Linked DNA regions of Homo sapiens. The protein of the gene in region 7 purifies or fractionates together with the protein of the main gene of each other region. This does not show direct contact. Each region holds a gene or a part of one and is shown on either strand. Other genes may lie near its edges. The genes, in order: ERICH5, TRIM13, TSPAN10, LRRC8D, CLPTM1, ANGEL1 and SLC44A1.

Region 1 (2,771 bases), on a different chromosome or scaffold from region 7:
GAGCCCCTTGAGGACAGAGACTATCTCTTCCTCAGTCTGCATCTCAGCACCTAGCATATGTTTAGGCATGCCAAAAAATGCTGAGTTAATAAATGAAAGAATTGGCCAGACATGGTGGCTCATGCCTGTAATCCCGGCACTTTGGGAGGCCGAGGCGGGTGGATCATGAGGTCAGGAGCTGGAGACCAGCCTGGCCAATGTGGTGAAACCCCGTCTCTACTAAAAATACAAAAACTAGCCGGGCATGGTGGTGTGCGCCTGTAGTCCCAGCTACTCAGGAGGCTGAGGCGGGAGAATCGCTTGAACGCAGAAGGTGGAGGTTGCAGTGAGCCGAGATCACTTCACTGCACTCCAGCCTGGGCAACAGAGCAAGACTCCATCTCAAAAAATAAATAAATTAATTAAATAAAATAAATAAATGAAAGAATTAAACAAAAACAGATGGATGATTATAATGAATGCTTCACTTAAGTATACTGAACTGTGAAGCTAAAATTTACCAAAATGTAAATCATACCCCAGAAGAAAATATTTTTTTAAATTATAACACCAATAAAGAACACTGTAAACATCATTTGTTTTATGCTGGTAAAATACAGTTAAAATTTTAAAACACCATATGCTAAGACATAGTACATTTTCTCTGGTCTTCTCATACAGATTTTAAAACTGCAGAAGAACAAGAGCAGACTGACAGTCATTTTCTTTTTCCTTTTTTCTTTCTTTTTTTTTTTTTTTCTGGAGAACAAGGTCTCACTATGTTGCCCAGGCAGGTCATGAACTGCTGGGCTCAAGCTATCCTCCCACCTCTGCCTCCTGAAGTGCTGGGATTACAGGTGTGAGCCACTGCACCCTGTCCTGACAGTCATTTTCTAAGATAAGCTTCACAAAGATGAAAATAACATTCTAAGATCCATTATGTATATATCATTTCATTGGAAGGTGAATTCCTCCAGTAATCATCTATTCACCTTTACTTTGGATCCTGATTTCATACATGGGGCCTGATGAAGTGTCAACTTGGAAAAATTCAGAAAGTTTCACATGTTGCCTTCAATGTTAGACACTATTTAAACACTAGGTTAAAATTTTGGACAGAGATGATGTTTCGGAAAAGTTTTGCTGACAAACTGAGCATTAATAGAATGCCTCTTTCCCAGGCACAGAAGCCTTTTTGGTTTGGTCAAACGAACTTCAACCACCTGAAAGTGACTTCAGGGACTGTGTGTCAGTCACCCCATCCCACTCCCCAGAGCTGGTCTCCTATGGAGCACATCTAAACATCCAGGTTTGCCAGCATAACTTTTACCTTCAATGCGTTGGTCCTCTTCATTAGTATGGATGTTCCTGATCATTTCCACATATGCTCCTGCCTCTACATTTCGTGCTGGATGCTCCATGCTTCCAACTATTCCTTCAGGTTGAATCTGCTCCATGTTTCCTGGACCTTCAGGAGTTTTATGGAATGGATCATTCATAACAGGCTTTTCCACAAGCTGACTTCTGTCCAATACTTCTGGTGTTACATTCTCTTTGGGAATTCTTTCTAGAAGCTGGGGCTGCTCCTCTTTTCCCAATGTTGCCTGAAGTTGCTGCTCTTCAGCTGTTTCCACAAACTGACTTCCTTCCAATATTTCTGGAGATTCATTCTCTTTGGAAATTGTTTCTAGAAGCGGGGCCTGCTCATCCTTTCCCACTGTGCCCTGAGGTTGTAGCTCTCCAGCTATTTGCAGAGTCAGAACGTTCTCAGTTGTTCCTAGAGGCTTCATCTCTGCAGCAGTTTGTGGATTCTCAGTGACCTCCACTGCTCTGAGAGAGTCCTTCTCTACTGCTGCCTGCAAAGGCTGACCCTTGGCTTCTGGTCCTAAAGGCTGAGCTTCAGCATTTCCTTTTAGAGACTCGGCCTCTGTCCCTGCTCCTGCATCTTTCTTCTTTCCTTCTGCTGCTGGGGCATCCTCTTTGCCACCTGGTTGAGGCGGCCCAGATTCCTCCAGTCCCTCTCCAGGCTGAGTCTTTTCTGTGGACCCTGATTGGTCTGTGGCATCCCTTCCAGGGGCTACGTCCTTGGCCAGGGGCTGTTCTTGGAGGGGTTTAACACCATTAGCTGTAGGCTCTGCTGAAACCTTGAGCTTTTGTAAGGGAGGACGGCTTTCCCTTTGTACATTGCCATCAACAGTAGATTCTCTTCCCAGTGCATGTGGCTTTGGTTGGGCAAAGCAGGACTCACTTTCTTCTGCAGTTGAAAAATGCTCATTTGAAGTTACTTTGGTTATTCATTTGAAAAAGAAAAAGAAAAGAGAAAACACAAATTATTGTTTAGTTTTATCTTGAAAAGTGAATTGACATCACAAAGTAGATTTAACAGTTCAAGACAGTTCCAAATATATCTGAGTACAGAAAGGCCATACCATGACCCTAACACTCTCCCAGTCAAATCCCTTTATTGTCTTCAGCTCAAACATTTAATCTTAAGCGCTGAAGTCCTCCAAAACCACAGTTTTCTCCTGTTTGCTCCTTGTGCATCTTTTCATGGCTCCTGTCCCAGATTCTAACTGAGCTTACTCTGTTTCTCTCTTCTTTTCCTTGTCTCACACTTTCTCCTCTTGAGACTTAGAAGGTTTCCTTTTTAAAAAATTTTTTTTCCATTTTTGTTTTGGCGGGGAGGGCAATAGAAGATTCCCAAACTTAGAAGGTTTCATGATGCGAGGTCCTTGGGCTGCTAGAGAGGTCTTACTTTCCTTCTAACACAGGAAAGCCCCCAGCAAATGGAA
Region 2 (2,463 bases), on a different chromosome or scaffold from region 7:
ATCATAAAACTGAAAGAACAACTTATATAGTGTGTAAGGAACTCAAGAGAAACCAGTGAGCGAGCCTTTATGTGAACCACTGAAACAATCTCTTAAAAATAAGGCAATTCTTTTCTAAGTCAAATTCATTAGCAATGGAACATAATCTACAAAATTATTTTCTCCCATGATTTGAATGTCCATAGTCTCAGTTTTTTCTGGGCAGTCTTCATTTATTCCTTTTGTCCCACCTAATAATAGCCCCTTTCACTCTAAAAAGTATCCCAGTTTGGAAAATAATTATTTGGTCATTCTACCCAACTCCACTGGTTACCCCAAAACATTATTTTGAATAATCATCTTTTCCAGAAGTTACAGGCCTGAGGAACTTCAAGTTTTTAGAGAAAACATCACAAACTGGTATACAAGAGAAATACTGCAAAGTACAAAATACCTGACTCCAGTTTGGTTATCAGTAGTGCTGTCAGAACCACACTGGAAAACCAGGTCATGGTAAGAAGGTCTTTGTGGAGGCAGTGGAAGTAAGGTCATCTGAGGAGGGAAAAAGTTACCATTCCAGGTCGGCGCTGAAGGTTGTTCTGTAAACACTGTAATCCTCCCTGTTAGCATCTCAATTGTTTTGCTGCAAGAGCCAAACACCCTGAAAAAAGCTTGAGTGTTCCGGCTTAGGAAATGTACCTCCACAAGAGCAGGTCTTGGCTGTAGCAGGTATGGGTTTAAGAGATCAACTAGAGAACGAAGTTCATAGAAAAGAGCCTCTCTCTGAAGCCTAAGATAGTCTGAAAATTCAGTGGGTAATAAAAGCTGGTGAGTTCTCAAAAAATCTAAGATGAAACTAAACAAATCACCATCTCTGTCTACAAAAATCTGGCCACCAACCATCTTGAATTCTTGGTCTCTGCCATCTAACATGCGTGCCAAACGAGAAGCAGGAAACTGCTTTATCGTAGAAAACCTTGTCGTGAATATCTTCCCTCCCACATTCAAAGTGACCAGTTCCTGACTACTCATTCTTCCCTCACTTCAAACTAGAGGCTACCATCAGCCACACTTAGGAAATCAACCTATAACCATAAATGTTGCTAGTTATACATGATTATGCAGTGGAGGGGAGGGAAGAATAACAAAAACCAGACTTAGATTCCCAGGAAACTACTGTAAGGTAAATAGTGTATCCATGGCTGTGTTTGCAAATTCGAGTTGCCTGGGAACTTGCAGTATACAAAATGAAAAAGCAACAGATGAGGAACTAAATAGCTTAAGGAAAACTGCCAATATATCTGAAGATAGACATCAAATAGATCCCTTTCCTGTCTTACATTTAAAAACTTATCCATGAAAACCTAGTAAAACTATATATATATATATATATATATATATATATATATATATATATATATATATATATATTTTTTTTTTTTTTTTTTTTATTACTGGGAGGGGAAAAGCATTCTCCCTCCCCATACCTGTCTACCACGCAGAGGCTAGACTTAAACGTTTTTCTTAATTTCTTATGATCTCCTTAGAAATTTAGTGGCTAAATCATGAATTACATGTTAGGAATGAGACAGCCTGGCAAGCTCAATTTGACTATTCTCATAGCTAGAAGGAAATCATTTCTTCTGTGCTTTAAATTTAGTTGCCACCTTTTATCCTGTCCCCATTTTCATTACCTCCTCTCAACCAAATTAGAGGAGGACTGAGGTAAAGAACTCTTATTTTCAGAAAGTCTATTCCACTTAATGGGCTTTCAAGGAATATCTTACTCTATGACACAAATAAGGCAGACTAGAGAGCAGTTATAAGGTTACTTCTTTGTTATATGAATTCTAAGCAAGGTGTTTATTCCATGAGAGGGTATCTTTATCTCTTGTGAGCAGACAGAACAGCATTAGTGTTCAGCTGATTACTTTGTAATAGCTGACAGACTGTTTTATCTGTTGTCAAATTAGTCTTAACTACACTAAACATTCTTTCTGTAAGCAAGTGGATTGGTTTGGTTGTACACTTGCCATCTTTCGAACAAAACAACACATAGCTGCCAGAAAAAAGGTAGTCTTCCCATTTCCTGCTCTTGCCATGTGTTCTATATATACATATATATGTATATATATGTATGTGTACATATGTGTGTGTGTGTGTGTATATATATATATATATTTTTTTTTTTTTTTTTTTTTTTTTTTTTTTTGGTAGAGACTGGGTCTTGCTATGTTTACGAAGCTGGTTTCGAACTGGAACTCCTAGCCTCAAATAATCCTCCCACATCACTGTCCTAGAATGCTGAGATTATAGACATGAGCCACCCTGCCCAGCCAGCTGATCCTTTTTTTTAACCTATCTATGCTTTTGCTTGCATAGCCACTTAACATTTCTAGTTGATCATCTTTGGTGAAAACTACAAAAACAAAGGAGAAAAGGGCAGATTGAAAGCTCCACTCTCCTAAAAATGTAAACTTATCA
Region 3 (3,500 bases), on a different chromosome or scaffold from region 7:
TGGCTTGAGCCCAGGAGTTTGAGGCTGCAGTGAGCTGAGAGCCTGATGCTGTGATCAGCTTCTTCCTGGTGAAACTGGATTGGAATGGGATCCTTGCCCAGCACACAGCCATGGCTGCTTTTTATTATTTATTTAGTTTTTGAGATGGAGTCTCGCTCTGTCACCCAGGCTGGAGTGCAGTCACGCGATCTCTGCTCATGCAACCTCTGCCTCCTGCTCATGCAACCTCCACCTCCTGGGTTCAAGCGATTCTCCTGCCTCAGCCTCCCAAGTAGCTGGGATTACAGGTGTGTGCCACCACGCCCGGCTAATTTTTTTTTTTTTTTTTTTTTTAGTAGAGATGAGGTTTCTCCACGTTGCTCAGGCTGGTCTCGAATTCCCGACCTCAGGTGATCCACCCACCTCAGCCTCCCAAAGTGCTGGGATGACAGGCGTGAGCCACAACGTCCAGCCCGGCCATAGCTTCTTATTCTCCTTTTTAAAAAAACTCTTCCCGGCAGAACTGGGCACCTGCGGGGCTGCCTCTTCCCCCACAGAGAGAGACCAGCAAGCCTTTCCTGCCAGTGGGCCAGGGGGTCCCCTCTGAAGGCCCTGCAGCCTCCAGGCGGTCTTCCTGGGCTCTTGGGCACCCTCCTCCCTGTCCTGGGAGCCTGTTGGGCAGGGCACTGTCCTGTCCTCGGCAGCAGGGTCCAGTGCCGTGTCCACACTCAGTGCGGGCCGTTGGTGGGGCCGAAGAATGGGTGCTGGGATGTGAGGACTGGTTTCAGAGGGGAAAGAAAAGGGCAGCCATGTGGGCCAGCCCCTGTGGCTGGTGAGGAAGCCCCTCTACACAAGTTCCATGCTGCAGGCACACACAGACTGATCCACGCAGATGCTGTTTCAAACTCTGGGGACGCAGCCCCGCCTGTGTGCTGCGGGAAAGCCAGGGCGACCCTGACCCGGGGAGGCCGCAGACACCCACGCATAGGACCAGGAGGGAGTGGGTGTGTTCACTGAGCACCGCCCTGCTTGGTCTTCACCACAGCCTTTCAGAGTCTGCTCATCACCCTGTTCTAAAGGTGGGGTCCCACCAGAGCTGGGACCCTCACTGCCCCTTCTGCTGCTCAGCCGAGCGGGACGGCCCTGAGGGCCCCCTGCCCCTGGCTGTCCGCATCTCTGAGCTCCAGTGCTGCCCTCCGCCATCCGGCATCCTCCCATCCCTCGAAGGCTCTGCCACCATGCTCTTCCCTGACCCCTCACCAGTTGTCACAGAGTCTGGGTGAATGCGGTCTCACCCTGTTCCTCTTCCCTCTGCAGGAAACTGCAGGCCAGAAGCCCCTCTCTGTGCACAGGCCACCCACCTCAGGCTGCCTAGGTCCAGTGCCCAGGGAGGACCAGGCGGAGGCCTGGGGCTGCAGCTGCTGTCCCCCGGAGACCAAGCACCAGGCCTTGAGTGGCACCCCCAAGAAAGGACCAGCCCCTTCCCTCTCCCCAGGGAGCAGCTGCGTCAAGTATCTGATCTTCCTCTCCAACTTCCCCTTCTCCCTGCTGGGGCTGCTGGCCCTGGCCATCGGGCTCTGGGGCCTGGCTGTCAAGGGGTCTCTGGGAAGTGATCTGGGGGGGCCCCTGCCCGCAGACCCCATGCTGGGGCTGGCACTGGGAGGGCTGGTGGTCAGCGCAGTGAGCCTGGCTGGCTACCTGGGCGCCCTCTGTGAGAACACCTGCCTGTTACGTGGCTTCTCTGGGGGCATCCTTGCCTTCCTGGTGCTTGAGGCCGTGGCGGGGGCCCTGGTGGTGGCCCTCTGGGGCCCGCTGCAAGACAGCCTGGAGCACACCCTGCGTGTGGCCATCGCCCACTACCAGGACGACCCAGACCTGCGCTTCCTCCTCGACCAAGTCCAGCTCGGGCTGAGGTGCTGCGGAGCTGCCTCCTACCAGGACTGGCAGCAGAACCTGTGAGTCTTGGAGTGGGCGAGGGACAGGGCCACCACAGGGTCGCAGAGGCCACACACCCTTGTGCGTGTACACACAGTCACTCACACGTACATACTCATTCGTGCATGCCCACATGCATGCACACGTATACCCACATGTACACGCATATCCACACTGGCACGTCTCGTGCTCACAGGTTTCACGTGTGTGGACACACACCTACACACTCCTCTACACTGACATGAACATGTTCTTGTGCACACACAAAACAGCCTCACACTCAGGCACACACTCACACTCAAACATGTTCATACACACACGTGTCATGCACACAAGGTATAGGGGTGCTTGCCTCTCCTTGTTCTATGGGCTCAGGGCCCCAATCAGCCCTGCGGCCCCCAGAACGTGCAGGGTGACTCTGTTCCCCCCGCCAGGGCCAGGAGGACTACCCAGGAGCTTAGTTGAGAAGCTGAGCCCACAAACTTAGAAAGTCATTTTTCTGCTGGGCACGATGGCTCACACCTGTAATCCCAGCACTTTGGGAGGCTGAGGTAGGCGGATCACCTGAAGTCAGGAGTTCAAGACCAGCCTGGCCAACATGGTGAAACCCCATCTCTACTAAAAATACAAAAATTAGCCAGGCATGGTGGCAGGCACCTGTAATCCCAGCTACTCAGGAGGCCGAGGCAGGAGAATGACTTGAATCCAGGAGGTGGAGGTTGCAGCCAAAACAGCACCACTGCATTCCAGCATGGGCAACAGAGCGAGCATCCATCTCAAAGAAAAAAGGCCGGGCGCGGTAGCTCACGCCTGTAATCCTAGCACTTTGGGAGGCCGAGGCGGGCGGATCACGAGGTCAGGAGATCAAGACCATTCTGGCTAACACGATGAAACCCCGTCTCTACTAAAAAATAGAAAAAATTAGCTGGGTGTGGTGGCGGGCGCCTATAGTCCCAGCTACTCAGGAGGCTGAGGCAGGAGAATGGCGTGAACCCAGGAGGCGGAGCTTGCAGTGAGCCGAGATCGCCCCACTGCACTCCAGCCTGGGCGATGGAGGGAGACTCTGTCTCAAAAAAAAAAAAGAAAAGAAAATGACTTTTAGGTGAATTCAGGACATTATTCTGGAATCTGACTCCACAGTTTCCCTCCACCGTGAGTGTCATTAAACGCCGTGCATTTAGGATCCAGTGCAGGATTTTCTTATATTCTGCTCAAGGGTAGCTGTCTTTTTGTTGGTTTGTTTGTTTGTTTTTTTGAGACGGAGTCTCCCTCTCGCCCAGGCTGGAGTGCAGTGGCTCGATCTCGGCTCACTGTAAAGAGGGTAGCTGTCTGTTTTATCAGCTATCCCCAGTGCATGCACACCCCAAGCAGCACCTACTCTCCATGCCACACCCAGGACAGACGATATGCACTCTGTCTCCCAAGCCTTCTTGGTGCATGTATCCAGGAGCAGCTGAACACAAGAGATGAAGTCATAGGCAACCCTGAAAACTGGCCATTGGGACCCAGCAGTGGCTAACAGGCGGGTCCTTCCAGACTCTGCAAAGCACCACATAGGTTGGTTTTTGGCCACGTGTGACTGGGTT
Region 4 (3,500 bases), on a different chromosome or scaffold from region 7:
CAGCAGACATTGAGGAATGTCGGAGACATTTATGGTTATCATAGCGAGGTGGCAGGTGCTGCTGTCATCTAGTGGCTAGAGGACAGGGATGATACATAAGCATCCTACTGTGCACAGGACATCAACCCCCTTCCTCCTAAACAAAGAATGATCCTGTCCAAAATGGCGATAGTGCCTGCCCTTAGATCTCAGAATAGGTCTTGAAGGGAGGTGGTTCTTGACATGGGAGGAGTAATAACATTGAGCTTAGGAAGCTGATGTAGGAGACTTGTGCTCAGGTCTGATGTGATTAGGGTCTGGGCAAATCCTTATTGAAAGAAAGGGGCAGTTTGGAGGGAGATCATAGCAGATGAGCACAGTATGATAGTGGAGTAAGTTGGGAATCATTGAAATCAGAATTGGCATTTTAGAGGGGCCCTATCCAATTTATTTATTTTAGTAAATTCTTACCCTTTCTAGGTAACTTTTGTTTAACCCCAGGAACCGTGAACTTCTCCTGAAGACAGGTTATTACACCTTTGGACTGTTTGTTGTATTTTTACTTGAGCTGAAGACTGTCTCCTTGAATTTTTTTTTCCAATGATTTTCTTCTTTTGGAGCTGCCTACTCTCTTTGAATGCACCAAGACAATATGATGTCCCCTTACCCCCAGTTGACTTTGCTAATGCAAACTAGTCCCAATTCTTTTCACAGTCTTTTATTGGGATGTGGTTTCTCGATGTCTTCTCAGTTTATCGGCATCTCACATGGAGAATCTGGAATTGAATATGTAATTGAGATGTGATCTGGCCAACAGAGAGTACAGTAAGACAGCTGTTTGCTGAGACCTAAGCATAAATGTCTACTTACTGCACCTTAAGCTTACAACTGCCTATGATTTTCTTAGGCAGTGCCGAGCACAAACTTCTTTATTAGATAATCATGTTTTGGATAGTCAAAACCCCCAGATATTTGCTCTGTGAGCTGCTGCATCCTGTATTTCTTGGGCAGATTTTTTTGGAGAAGTTTTTTTTGTTGTTGTTGTTCCTTCTCAATGTTATCCTATTTATTTTGATCCAGTCTTCTAGCCTTTGACATTTTTGAATTTATGTCTTCTAATTATATCAGAGAGGAATGGAGGATGACTTTGTTGAAAACTGTAGTCAGTACTATGTAAAACTCAGTAGTTTGGGGGCTCTATTGGTCCTATATGAGAGCTGAGATCACTGAGTGATGGAGGTGAGTTCTAGGGCTAATTAGCCCTTATTTTGGGGGCTTCTGAGAAATTTAAATGCCAGGCCACATGGCATTTAGCTCTTGAAATGTTTGCACCTGGGGTACCATTTTGAAATTGTTCAAGTCTGTTGCAAGCTTCTGAAATCTGAATTCCTTCCTCTGGGTCTTTGTAGTTCTGTTTATGTATCTGGAAGAGAGTTTCTAATGTTTTGTGCAAATCTGAAGCTTGCAGGGTTAGAGTTGCTTTTGAAATTTGTGAGAAGATAGGATAACTGGCAAAAATCAACTATGGACTTGTTTCCCACTCAGGCTAAGCTTTGTTTTCTTTTTTGCTAATATGCCTCAAATATTTAGTGACAGCCTTATATTTAGAGAAGGAGAGAGGATTGAGGTTTAGAAGCAAACCTTTTTCTCAGAGCTTGGCTTTAACTTGCCGTTGATGTAAGTTCATACTTAACTTGAATTTTACAGTCTTCACTACAAAGACATTAGGAAATTACCATTCCCAGATGTCTTCTGAAGCTGGCAGGTAAGAAATCCCAGGTACCTTAGTGCCAAGTTCTCCAAATACTCTAGATCTATCCAGTGAACTAGATTTAATAAATTACTTGATTTGGGTGGTAGCTGTCTCACAGTGTTGAAGGAGAGCTAGAGGAAAATTTCAAATCTCATGGCCAAATGTGTGTCACCTCTTTGTGATGAGTGTCCATTGTGCCCCAATCCTTTGTTAGTGTGTTGGCTGTCCAGATGGTGCAGTCTACTTGGTTTCCCTTCTTTACCAGTCCACGTGGGCAACCTCTTTATATCCTCTGGAGATGAAGGATATTCCAATGAAAAGAAGGGATGCCTTTTGAATATTTGAAATTTCTTGAGGGGAAAAGTGTTGCTGTCCTTTTATATTGTCAAAGGCTGTGTCGAAGTTGGAGTCTTAGAATTAAGGATGCAGTTGTGTCACTTTGAATAGAAAGAATATTATAGCTGGAAGGGATCAACCCTTAAATTTTATTTTATTTTATTTTATTTTATTTTATTTTTTTAGACGGAGTCTCGCTCTGTCGCCCAGGCTGGAGTGCAGTGGCGCGATCTCAGCTCACTGCAAGCTCCGCCTCCCGGGTTCACGCCATTCTCCTGCCTCAGCCTCCCGAGTAGCTGGGACTACAGGCACCCGCCACTGCACACAGCTAATTTTTTGTATTTTTAGTAGAGATGGGGTTTCACCATGGTCTCGATCTCCTGACCTCATGATCCGCCCGCCTCGGCCTCCCAAAGTGCTGGGATTACAGGCATGAGCCACCGCGCCTGGCTACCCTTAAATTTTATAGTTGAGCGTATCCAGGCACAGGGAGGTGATGTGCTTAGCGTAAGTTTACACATGTAGTGACAGAGTAGGCATTAGAATCTATCTGCCTTAAAGACCACAATAAAGGCTAAGGATCAGGATTTCTTCTCTGCTTAGAGGTGTGTAAACAGTGGGGTCCCTCGGGTCTTATTTACATAATTGATCTAAAAGAAGGAACACACAGTGGAATTTCTAGGTTTGCAGATGACAGCTTTTCTGGATTATGAAATGTCTAACCACTGGGTATTTGCTCCAGGGAAACCACACTAGGATGTATTAGTCATCAGACGATTTGCAGGTGAGTTTCTTGTGGGCAAATAGGTGGTTGGGTATTAAGGGGAAATTACAGAATTTTCATAGGATGGTGTTTTGTTGGATAAACTCAGGGAAGGGCTCTGAAAATACCTTCATGTTGTTGTCCTGACTTGCTGTTGCAGAAAAACAAAAACCATGAAATGCTAGGCTTCATCAAAAAGATTTTGGGGCTGGGCATGGTGGCTCAGGCCTGTAATCCCAGCAGTTTGGGAGGCTGAGGTGGGCAGATCACCTAAGGTCAGGAATTCGAGACCAGCCTGGCCAACCTGGTGAAACCCCGTCTCTACTAAAAATAAAAAAATTAGCCAGATGTGGTGGTGGTGCCTGTAATCCCAGCTACTCGGGAAGTTGAGGCAGGAGAATCACTTGAACTCAAGAGGCGGAGTTTGCAGTGAGCTGAGATCGCGCCATTGCACTCCAGCCTGGGCAACAGAGACTGTCTCAAAAAAAAAAAAAAAAAAGATTTTGGGGAAAAAAATACAAAATATAGTCTTAATTGAGTTTTCACTGTGTTTTTTCCCCCAAATTCGTGGGCACCTAACCTTCAGAAAGACACTAGAGCTGGAATGACCATTGTAATGATACCTACCTAGAATGTTTGGACATTGCTGCTAGAATGTAAGCTTCATGA
Region 5 (4,131 bases), on a different chromosome or scaffold from region 7:
CGTGTATCTTTGGGACTCCCTCTCTCACTTCCTTCAGGTCTTTGTTCAAGCGTCACCTCCTCAGAGAGGCCTTCTAGACTACCCTATTTAATTGCAACTCTTCTACCCACCCCTCACTTCCTATCCCCATCCCAGCTTTATTTCTGTCCATGGCACGCAGAGCCATCTGAACTGCTGTTTTTCTTATTTATCTTGTTCACTGTGTGTCCCTGTCTGTGCTTCCCCTATAAATTCAGCTCCAACTAGAACATAAGTGTAAGGGCCTTCAAGAGGGCAGCACCTATTTTATTCACAGCTGTATCTCCAGCATCAGCAAAGGCCTAGCATGGAGTAGACTCAATTCGCATTCGCTGAAGGAAGGAATGGCAAAGCTGTGGGTTCTGTGTCCGAGTTCCTGGCTACAGGAGCAGGCTAGCTAAAGCAGCAGACTGTGCAGAGGGTGTGCCTGCTGTGCACTAGGCCCTGGGCATGGGAGAAGGGTGGCAGTGGCTGTGGACACATCAGTGACTAAGACACAGTTCCTGCTCTCGGATCTGCACGTCCACGCACACACACAATCCCCAGCAACATCTGCTAAAGGGTCCAAGAAGTAGCTGAGACCACCAGGGCTAGGCAAGAGCAGGAGGAAGCTAGGTTTTGCGGCATGTCTTCACTGATTACCTGGATCCACCACGGCATCAGGGAATTCCACCTCAGCCCAGCCTCTGTTTCAAGATCCGCTCATTCCACAAACACTGAGCACCTCCTCTGTGCCTGGCGCTGAGCTGAGTGGTGCTAAGGAAGCAGTGGTGATCAAGGCAGTCCTGGCTCTGCCCTCCTGGGGTTCCCAGTCCCCAGACAGTGAAACCCAGTAGGGCAGGGCTGGGACAGCGGAGCCCAGACAGTCAAAGAGGGCTTTCTGCAGGAAGGGACATCTGAAATCTGTAGGACTAATACACATCAACTAGCTAAAGAGGGGAGAGACCTGTGCATAGACTATGAGGAAAGAGACTGAGAGGCAATAAAAGAGGTTTAGAAATAAAATAGGTTCAGAGCAGCGGATCCCCTTTAGCGCAGTTGTTCTCACGCAGGGATGGCTTTGCCCCCCTGCTCTTGGAACATTTGGCAATGTCTGGAGACATATATGGTTGTCACAACTGGGGAGGGGCGTGGATCCTACTGACATCTAGTGCGTAGAGGCCACGGATGCTGCTAAACATCCTAAAATGCACAGGGCAGCCCCCCAAACAAAGCATTATCCAATTCAAAATGTTGATAGTGCCGAGCTCGAGAAATCCTAGTCTAGTCTGAAGAAAAGTGTCGGATCGTGCAAGACTGTGATTTATTAAAGAATTTGTACTTTGTCCTAAAGGCAAAGGGGTAACTCTTGATTGTTTTTAAGCAGAGTTGGTACAAGAGAAGATCAGAGTGCCATCTGGAAGCTCAGGGCAATGAGAACAACCTGGGCCCTGGTCTCTCAAGCCACCATCAACCCAATAATCAACAGAAACCCAGAGGGGAAACGACCTCCTTTCAGCAAGACTGGGAAACCCTTGAAGACAGGAACTGAGCCTTCATTCCAGCACTAACTCAACAAACATTTCCTAAGCTGTCCCTGAAGCCAGGCCCTGGCTGAGAATGCTGAAAAGATTCAGAGCAGATACAGTGGGCTCTATCACACAAATTTCATCCATGTGTCCTACCCAAGTGATACCACTTGCTCTTTCTCTGGGCTCCCCCAGTCCCTGACACAGACTTTTGTCACCAACCTAATCATTCAGGATTACAACTGTTTACATGTCAGTCTCCTCTCTTCGTCCCCTGACAGCAGGGATATGGCTGGCCCTCCTGTCCAACCTCTGCATTTAACACGGGAGAGATAAAGGCCTAAAGAGGGAAAGGAACTTGCCCAAGGTCACACAGAGAGTCAGCTTCATTCTCCCCTCTCAACCCGCACTCCTTTCCCCTGAGCTGCCTCCCACATGTCAGTGACATCCCAGTGGGTGGGTCGACAGCACCTTCATGTCTCTCCATCTATTCCCCAAATGCCTGAACGGTAGCTGCCTGAAATGGTATGCTCTGCAGTGTGTTAAGACAGCAGTGGGGCAGAAGTCATCCGCACCAGGACTAATTAACCCATAGAACTATTTTACATTAAAACCACAACCATACCAGTCCCTGTGTCAGCAGTGTCTTGTAACTTCTACATAAAGTTACAAACCTAACCAGGATGACCTTCTAGAAGCGCCTTAGTCTCACTGTTCCTTGAATTCCCGTCTGTAAAATGGGTCTGTCGGCCGTGCCCTGCTAATACTGACTTCCCCACAGCTAGAAAACTCCCAATTAATCACTGCGCACACCTCAAACACTACAACGAGACCTGAACGCCAGACCACTCTAGGAACGGCCTCAGAGCATGGAATCGCGGAGTTGAGAACCCAGCGCGCCAAGGTACAAGCCTGCGCCCCTCCGAGCCACTGTCTCCCCGGATCGAGCAATGAGCCTGGTGGCCGCCCGGCTCGAGCGTGCAGGGGAACCGACCCGCAACAGGGCCCTGTTCCCGGCACCGTCCGGCCTCCCGGGCGGTCCGGCCCTGCCTGGGCCGGGTATTCAAGGTCCCTCTGGCCAAGGAGCCCCCAGTGCACGGGATTCCGTGACAAGAGGTAGGACACGCCCCGTGGGAGGCCCCCCGGCTGGGGAAGAACCCCCTCAGTCCCCTCTCGGCCTCCGTACCTGACCGGAGCTGCCTCCCCCGGCCGCCACCACGGCGCTGCGGGCCCCGTCCGCCTCCTGCGCCGCCGCCATCTTCCCGCTCCGGGTCCCCGCCCCCGCCGCCAGCCCCGCCCCGTCCCCGACTTCGCAGCGCAATCGCGCGAGATTTCACGCTTTCCTAGCCCCGCCGGGCCACCCTATCCGGCAAGAGTGCCGCAGCCACGCCTCTCAGGAAGGCCACTTCCGGCTATGGAAGGACCAACCTGGCCACCGTACTCGTCTTTCTCCCAGCCCGTTTGTTTCCACCTAATAAAAACACTGTATGCTCCGAACTCCAGGACTTTCTCGGCCAGCATGTGCCTCCCGCAAGTTCTGTCCCTTCCGTCCCTTCACATTAACCCGCCTTTTCGGTTATATGAGCCTTTCGGGACATCCTGTCCGCTTCTCCCTGCCGATTCTTCGCGTCCTTTTCGTTCCATGTTTCTTGAGCTTTACCGGCCACTGTACGGCTTCGAACCACGCCCCTCTTTCGTCAGAGGAACCTTTCTGGCCACCGTATTCTGATTCGAAGAACTAGCCTTTTGCCCAGCACCCTTGTCTTCTGACCCCTCTTCCTAAGACAACTCTTTCGTTCAAGTCTCCTGAGCTCATATCCTTTCTGTGTTTTTAGAGTTCCAATTCCAGGGGTCTTACGGCCAACAAACCTCCGATGAGACCCTATGATACACCCCCAAGCCTTCGGACTGCCCTGCCTAGCACGCATGCGCGTTCCCTCAGTGGTCCAAACCTCGCATCCGTGGGCTAGGCTTCACGGGCTCTGAGAATTCCACAATTTTTCATTAGCTGTGTGTCTTCGTACAGCTCTAAACCCGGCCATCTGCTGAGAGACCCTTAGTTTGGAGAGGGTGTTACGGAGGCCCAGAGAGGACAAGACTCTCAGAGGCTGTTAACTGTTCACCCGTGAAATTGGGTGGATGTCTGGCCAGGGTTCTAACCCTTGTGGTGCTACTGACTGGATAAGATATCCTGGACAAGTGACGTCTCTCTCTCTCTTTTTTTTTCTTTTTTAGACGGAGCCTCACTCTCCCCCAGGCTGGAGTGCAATGGCGCGATCTCGGCTCACTGCAACCTCGGCTCACTGCATCCTCGGCCTCCCGAGTAGCTGGGATTACAGGAGCACGCCACCACTCCTGGCTAATTTTTTTTTTTTTTTTGAGACGGAGTCTCGCTCTGTCACCCAGGCTGGAGTGCAGTGGCGCGATCTCGGCTCACTGCAACCTCTGCCTCCCGGATTCAAGCAATTCTCCTGCGTCAGCCTCCCATTTTTTTTTTTTTTTTGTAAGTAGAGACGGAGTTTCACCGTGTTGGCCAGGCTGGTGACAAGTGACATCTATGTTTGAGCCTCAGTTTCTCCCCTTTTATAAACCAGGGATATAATCG
Region 6 (3,500 bases), on a different chromosome or scaffold from region 7:
AAGCAAATAACCAATGAAATCAAGAACTCCCATAACCCTGGTAATTAAAAATCAAGGGGGAGCGCTGGATACATGGAAGGAAGGGGGAGCCCCCCTTCTGCCTCTCCCAGGGCCACTGAGTGTGTGGCACAGGATTAGGAAGAGGCTGGGGTGGGGCAAGGACCACAGGCAGAGAACGCAGCCAGGCCTGGAGAAAGTCTAACCGTGGGAAAAAGGGAACGAGGAGGGGGAAGGGAGGGGATGTAAGTTTCTTGGATCTAAGTTTCTAGATGCATGGGATTTTTCCACAGTCTCTGATCCAGTGAGCTCTTCTGGAAGAGAAGCTCTCTTCCCCTGGGAGCCCTGTCATGGGGCGGTGACTTCCATCCCGAAGCTGGCTAGCAGGCAGAGGTGGTCTGAAGAGCAGAAGGGGTTGGGTAAGCCATTGGCAGCCCAGAGTATCTCTTCAGAGAGAAGGGAGAGACGACCCAGGAGCTTGAGAGTTCCATCTCGATACAGCCTGTGATCTGGGGCACAAAGCAGAAGCCAATGGGTAAAAGCAGCCGCAGCCACACTGCATGGGCAGGCAGTGGCAGAGTCCTTTGGGAACGCCTTCTGCAGGCTGCATCCCCTTGGCTGCCCACTGCCCCTCACCTCCTCTTGCAGCATCTGGCTGAGGAGGCCCCATTTTCTCAGAGATACTCCATAATATCATCAACGAATAAAGACAGGTGAGTTCCGGGGAACTGGGGCAAGCTGGAGAGCCCACCATTATAAGATCTTTTGATTTTCCAAGAGAAGCTAGAGATCCAGCTTTTCTATATAAAATCTGATTTTTTTTTTTTTTTTTTTAGATGGAGTCTTACTTCGTTGTCCAGGCTGGAGTGCAGTGGCGCAATCTCAGCTCACTGCAACCTCTGACCCCCGGGTTCAAGCGATTCTCCTGCCTCAGCCTCCTGAGTAGCTGGGATTATAGGTACCCGCCACCATGCCTGGCTAATTTTTTTTTTTTTTTTTTTTAAGACGGAGTTTTACGCTTGTTGCCCAGGCTGGAGTGCAGTGGCACGATCTCGGCTCACTGTAACCTCTGCCTCCCGAGTTCAAGCGATTCTCCTGCCTCAGCCTCCCAAGCAGCTGGGATTACAGACACCGTCACCACACCCGGCTAATTTTTTGTATTTTTAGTAGAGACGGGGTTTCATCATGTGGCCAGGCTGGTCTCACTCCTAACCTCAAGTGATCTACCCACCTCGGCCTCCCAGAGTGCTGGGATTACCGGTGTGAACCAGTAATACACGTGCCTGGCCATAACAGTAATACACATGCCTGGCCAAAAAGAAACATTCTTTACACAATACAGGCATGGGGCTGGGAGATTGCTATACTGTGCCCACTGGTATGGGGAGAGGAGACAGAAAATAAGGTCTCTTACCTAACCAAGTCCCTCATTCAGTGGCTGTCATTAAACAAACTCAACCAATTCCTAGATCTCTATTTTTACCTCTAAAATGGGGATTGGGAGTGACTGTCCTACCCTCCTCTCTTTAATGCTGCAAGGGTAAAAAGAGACAAGGCAGGCAAGTGGCCTATGGGGAGAATGATAAGGATGACCAGTGCAAGGGAGGTATGAAATCTGCTCCTTTGCTGGTTAAATCCCAGCAGCTGAAGACATGCTACCAAATGCCTGACCTACCATTAGCTGTTCCCAGGGACCTGGGGGTGGAGGAACCCAGGATCCATCAGGCTTACCAGTTCTGTTCCCATTCTCACAGGACTCAGCTGAGAAGAAGATGTAATCTACTGTCATTCCAAGACCCAATGGCATTGTAGTGACCTCTGGGCGGCCACGCTGGGGCAGGAAGTGGGTATATACTGACGTCAGGTGGAGGCAGTGCTGGATGGTACCTACAGTCCTACAGGGATGAAGGGGGAAACATTAGTTAACAAAAATTACTAAATTTTCCCTAGATCACTTTTTCTATGGGTTTTATGAAGATTTTTTAAAAGGATGATCTCAGATGACTCAATCTCAGCCAATTCCTCCCCATGCTAAGAAGGGGCTGGCAGTCTTAGCTAAAATTAGCCTAGAAACACACATTTGTACTGAGACTCCCTAACACTCCTAATCCCCCACTATCTGCTTGTTACCTGGTAAAGTATCCCCAATGTACCCCTGTCTGGGGCCCAGGCCTCTTCTGTGAGGCTTTACCCTCTGAGGAAAGAGTACATAGCCTTTTCACCTGCAGTAACATGGGTGGGTCACCTCTGGCTTCTGCATACCTACATAACCCTCTATAAGTTTAGCAGATATTAGGGGAAAAAGAGCTTATCAAAAAGTGCTCCCCCAAGTCAACCTCAGGACAACCAATGGGAATCTCTCTCTTACACCTAGGCAAGGGCTGGATTGAAAACAGAAGAGAACTGGAGAAGGTTACCTGGAGAAGGCAGGCTCAAGCTCCGATGCATCTTCCTCAAGGACAGACTCAGCCCAACCCGCAGGTCGCTCTGCAGAGGACCAGAGAGAAAAACATTTTCTCATCCACAGACAGTGAAGCAGGATCAGAACCTTTCACCCTAAAATCCCTCTCAGATCCTTGACTGGATTGCTTCAGAAGGATCCAGAAGGAGAAAGGGAGAAACAGTGAGGAGGAGAAGATGACCATAAACCAAAGTCAAGAACCTCAGAAAGCAGATGTAGGGCATCTAACACAGACATTGTCTTCTGTGGCTCCTCACCTTTGTTTTTCTTTAATTTGATTAAAAAAAAATAAGTCATATAGTCACATGGTACAAAATCAAAATGTAGCAAAAAGTATCAGTGAAGTTTCCCTCTCACTTGTCCTCCTCTGCCACTCAATTCCCCTCTCCAGAAGCCACCAATGTTACCAAATTCCTGGTATATTCCTTCAAAGACTTTCTATTACATACCATCCATTGTGTGTGTCTATGCATGTATGCATACATGTATATATACATACATATTACATATATGTATACATCTATAAGCACACACACACATACATATCATACACACGAATGTTAAAAAAGGAAGATACAAATTACCAATATCAGGAAAGAAAGAAGGGACATTAGTACAGATCCTACCAACATTAACAGGATAATAAGGATCAGCAACAACAGTGACAAGCCCTTAGCTAGACCAAGAAAACAGAATACTCAAATTACTAAAATCAGAAATGAAAGAGGGGCCATCACCACCAACCATTTAGAAATAAAAAATAACTATAAGTGAATGCTATAAATAACTGGATACCAACAAATTGGATAACTTATATAAAATTGAAAAATTCCTAGAAAGACACAAACTATGCACAATAACTCAAGAAAAAACTGAAAATCTGAATAGGCCTATAATAAATAAAGAGATTGAATCTGTAATTTTAAAACATCCCACAAAGAAAACACCAGGCTCAATGGCTTCACTGGTGAATTCCAGCAAACATTTCAAGAGGAATTCATACAAATCCTTCACAAACACTTCCAAAAAAAAGAGGAGACAC
Region 7 (3,196 bases):
CTTAAAATATATTTGTCAACATGTCCAGTTCCAACAACAGTTGAAGATGATGATAAATTAGCAAACTCAAGGGTAGTCCATAGTTGGCAAAAAATAAATTTGGTAGAAAGTTGGAGGAGCAGATGCTGAAGGTAGAAATGCAAAAGATGTTTTTTCTTCCTGCATAAATCACGGAGGTGTGTTCTGTTTTAGTGTTTTCCAGTCACCCACTAGAGCAGCTTCAGATTCCTCTGCCAATAGAACTCCACCCCCAGTCCCTTACCTACTCTATCTTCTTTAGGGAAGCATGTGGATTTCTTCACATCTGCACCTTACTATTAGGTAAGGGTGCTGCATCTACATGGAAGGCTCCCTGGGCCCTTGAAAAAGCAGGCAGAAACTCATCAAGGGGTTTGAAGTTCTTGTGAAATTTGATCCCAGTGGCTCATGACTTATAGTCAGGCATCAAACCATTTCCTACTTTTTCAGGCTGAAGAAAGTGGAAATATAACTGGCTGGTGAAGAAAGGAGAAAAGTCAGCCCCCTACCCCACCCCACACTCCTAGAAAAGTTTGGGGGTTTTTTTTGTTTGTTTTTGGTGTTTTTTTGAGACGGAGTCTCGCTCTATCGCCAGCTTAGAGTGCAGTGGCTCAATCTTAGCTCACTGCAACCTCCACCTCCCAGGTTCAAGTGATTCTCCTGCATCAGCCTCCTGAGTAGCTGGGACCACAGGCATGTGCCACCACACCCAGCTAATTTTTGTATTTTTAGTAGAGACGGGGTTTCACCACGTTGGCCAGGCCAATCTCGAACTCCTGACCTCAGGTGATCCACCCGCCTCAGCCTCCCAAAGTGCTGGGATTACAGGCATGAGCCACCGCGCCCGGCCTAGAAGAGTTTTAATGAACCTTCCACAGTAGTAAATGCAGAGACCACTGGTGGAAATTCCCATGTTGGATAGAAAAGGGCGTAAGTCCAGTCTAAGTATCTAAATGTGATATGCCCTTTTGTCACAGAAGTGTAAGACTTAAAGGGAATATTCTGACCTTCGTGTATGAATCTGATCCACCCATCCTGTCAGCTAGGATTATAATTTGAACTGTCGTTTCAGGAGCATGTGTTAAATCATATGAGTAAAAAAAAAGTAGACATTGAAAAGAAGACTTGGGAATAATTGGGCAGATAGAATGGGTTCCATGGATCATTCTAGTTGCCACTAGAAAATGTGAGCTCCTTCTTCATTTACCATGTTGATAATCCGGTGGTGACTTTTTTTTTTTTTTTGTAAATTGTATTAGATACCCCACAGGAATGTGACAATAATAGGATAGCTTTGGGGGCTGGTGATTTGAAACAGGGACTATTAAGTAGATTTTCCCCCATCCTCTAGGTTCCTGTAGTCTGTGCTCAGAACTTGGTTTTTGGCCCCTATTGTTTTTGCCTATTTTGATTTTCAGAGATGATCACATGGGGACAGTTAACTTTTCTTCTGCTGTGTTGCCTTAATGCTACTAGATTGTGTTGTGTTGTTGGAGTTTTCTGACTTCTTCCCTATAAAAAGATACTGAGAGCTCCATAATGAAAGAAGTTGTTATACTTTCTCAGAATATTCTGGACCACTGAATGCACTTCTAATAGAGCTTTAATCTAAAGAAGTTAGTTCAGTGGTTATTAACTGATTTTATTACAGGAGAAAAAAACTTTAACAAAAAGGCAGGGAGAAAAGTGTGAAGGGCATCAAGCAAAATGACAGGGGCTTCAAAAAACAACCAAAGACAAAACCCTATCTTCTGAAGACCAAAGGTCCAACTTTACTTACTGGCTGGCACAGCCTTTCTGAACTCCTTGAGTTTAGAATAGAGCTCCTAGAATAATAAGGCGGCCAAATTTAAAGATCAGTCAATACAGTAGGGACCTGCTATTGATCTCTCAGGCACTGAGTCTTCACATCCAGTGTCAAGCCCAGCCCAGCATATGGGGTGATATGAGCAGAAAACACACATCGGTGTGTCTTGATTTCTCGCAGCTGTGTAATGTGGCATGAGAAGTATGTTTTGGTGCCACATATTTCTCAATCTGATGCCTTTTTGTCTTTTTTTTTTTTTGCCATTTGCATCCTATTTCATAGTGCCAAAATGAATTTTTGTATCTTGTCTTGTCTTTGTCCATTATAAACTGGAGGATCACAGTTAAGCCTTCCATGAATTCATAGTTTGGAATCATTTACCTTACCATTATTTTGGATTTTTTTCTTATTACAGTGTCACTACACTGTATTCATGTGGGGGAACAAACATGTAGGTGCTTGAACATGCCCCACAGACACAGTTGTAGCCCTAGTATTTGTGACGGTCATTATTGACACAGTGCAGACTTTGCAGATGGAGCATTATGCTCTCAGAGGACTTTAAAAATATGTATATTAAGCAATTAACTTTCTGGAGTTGGAGTTATCAAATCTTGCTGGGAAATTAACTTCCAAGAGCTCTGAATTGGATGGAATTCCATCTGGCTTCAGAGAACAATCAGCCTATATGAAACGGAGCTTTGAAATGTTTTTCTTGTGCAGAAATACGAACTAGAAAGAAAAGTGCTGATCTAATGCTAAGTTTTCTCTGTGTACTGACTCAGTTGCCAGAATTATAATGAAAACTGTATTTTAGTCTAACAAATGTATAGAATTTTTTATGTAATAAATAAAATTTTATAGGAAAGAATGTTATTGTCTACTGTGTTGTAACACTTCCCCATGCCCAGGGTGGTGACTGATAAAATCATGGGCAACATCTTCGTTTCAAATTAGGTCAGTATGCTGCAAGGGTGCCCCAGAATTTCCCAGCTGTTCCTTTCTGTCTCTCGCAGCATGTTCTGGGGGCTTCGGAATAGCAACTATAAATGTACCTAAACCAATTTCTGAAGTACAAAGTTCATCCACTGCCAGGCCAGGCTTCATAGCTGGAGTCTGAGTTGCCGCGTGAATGCTAAGATTGCAACTGAACTCAATCATCAGGCAGAGTAGAAAAGCCTCCACTGGGCCGGGCGTGGTGGCTCACGCCTGTAATCCCAGCACTTTGGGAGGCCGAGGCGGACAGATCACAAGATGAGGAGATCGAGACCATCCTGGCTAACACGGTGAAACCCCGTCTCTACTAAAAAAAATACAAAAAAATAAGCCGGGCGTGGTGGCGGGCGCCTGTAGTCCCAGCTACTCGGGAGA

What was found.
Region 1: the proteins of SLC44A1 (region 7) and ERICH5 purify together in Homo sapiens (affinity purification with mass spectrometry; one large-scale study listed by BioGRID and IntAct). This does not show direct contact.
Region 2: the proteins of SLC44A1 (region 7) and TRIM13 purify together in Homo sapiens (affinity purification with mass spectrometry; one large-scale study listed by BioGRID and IntAct). This does not show direct contact.
Region 3: the proteins of SLC44A1 (region 7) and TSPAN10 purify together in Homo sapiens (affinity purification with mass spectrometry; one large-scale study listed by BioGRID and IntAct). This does not show direct contact.
Region 4: the proteins of SLC44A1 (region 7) and LRRC8D purify together in Homo sapiens (affinity purification with mass spectrometry; one large-scale study listed by BioGRID and IntAct). This does not show direct contact.
Region 5: the proteins of SLC44A1 (region 7) and CLPTM1 purify together in Homo sapiens (affinity purification with mass spectrometry; one large-scale study listed by BioGRID and IntAct). This does not show direct contact.
Region 6: the proteins of SLC44A1 (region 7) and ANGEL1 purify together in Homo sapiens (affinity purification with mass spectrometry; one large-scale study listed by BioGRID and IntAct). This does not show direct contact.

The regions. Positions count from the first base shown.
Region 1 is NC_000008.11:98,088,568-98,091,338, reverse strand, and holds part of ERICH5 (glutamate-rich protein 5), read right to left. Parts: intron 2,264-2,771; coding exon 1,310-2,263; intron 1-1,309.
Region 2 is NC_000013.11:50,014,042-50,016,504, reverse strand, and holds part of TRIM13 (E3 ubiquitin-protein ligase TRIM13), read right to left. Parts: 3' UTR 1,012-2,463; coding exon of another isoform or gene 434-1,011; 3' UTR 1-433. Other genes in the region: KCNRG (potassium channel regulatory protein), read right to left, coding at 434-1,011. UniProt on the Homo sapiens protein: Endoplasmic reticulum (ER) membrane anchored E3 ligase involved in the retrotranslocation and turnover of membrane and secretory proteins from the ER through a set of processes named ER-associated degradation (ERAD).
Region 3 is NC_000017.11:81,643,696-81,647,195, forward strand, and holds part of TSPAN10 (tetraspanin-10), read left to right. Parts: intron 1-1,296; coding exon 1,297-1,934; intron 1,935-3,500. UniProt on the Homo sapiens protein: Part of TspanC8 subgroup, composed of 6 members that interact with the transmembrane metalloprotease ADAM10.
Region 4 is NC_000001.11:89,824,032-89,827,531, forward strand, and holds part of LRRC8D (volume-regulated anion channel subunit LRRC8D), read left to right. Parts: intron 1-3,500. UniProt on the Homo sapiens protein: Non-essential component of the volume-regulated anion channel (VRAC, also named VSOAC channel), an anion channel required to maintain a constant cell volume in response to extracellular or intracellular osmotic changes.
Region 5 is NC_000019.10:44,954,049-44,958,179, reverse strand, and holds the start of CLPTM1 (putative lipid scramblase CLPTM1), read right to left. Parts: upstream 2,801-4,131; 5' UTR 2,785-2,800; coding exon 2,713-2,784; intron 1-2,712. UniProt on the Homo sapiens protein: Involved in GABAergic but not glutamatergic transmission. Binds and traps GABAA receptors in the endoplasmic reticulum (ER).
Region 6 is NC_000014.9:76,788,883-76,792,382, forward strand, and holds part of ANGEL1 (protein angel homolog 1), read right to left. Parts: intron 2,485-3,500; coding exon 2,415-2,484; intron 1,893-2,414; coding exon 1,729-1,892; intron 507-1,728; coding exon 346-506; 3' UTR 1-345.
Region 7 is NC_000009.12:105,394,651-105,397,846, forward strand, and holds the end of SLC44A1 (choline transporter-like protein 1), read left to right. Parts: 3' UTR 1-2,696; downstream 2,697-3,196.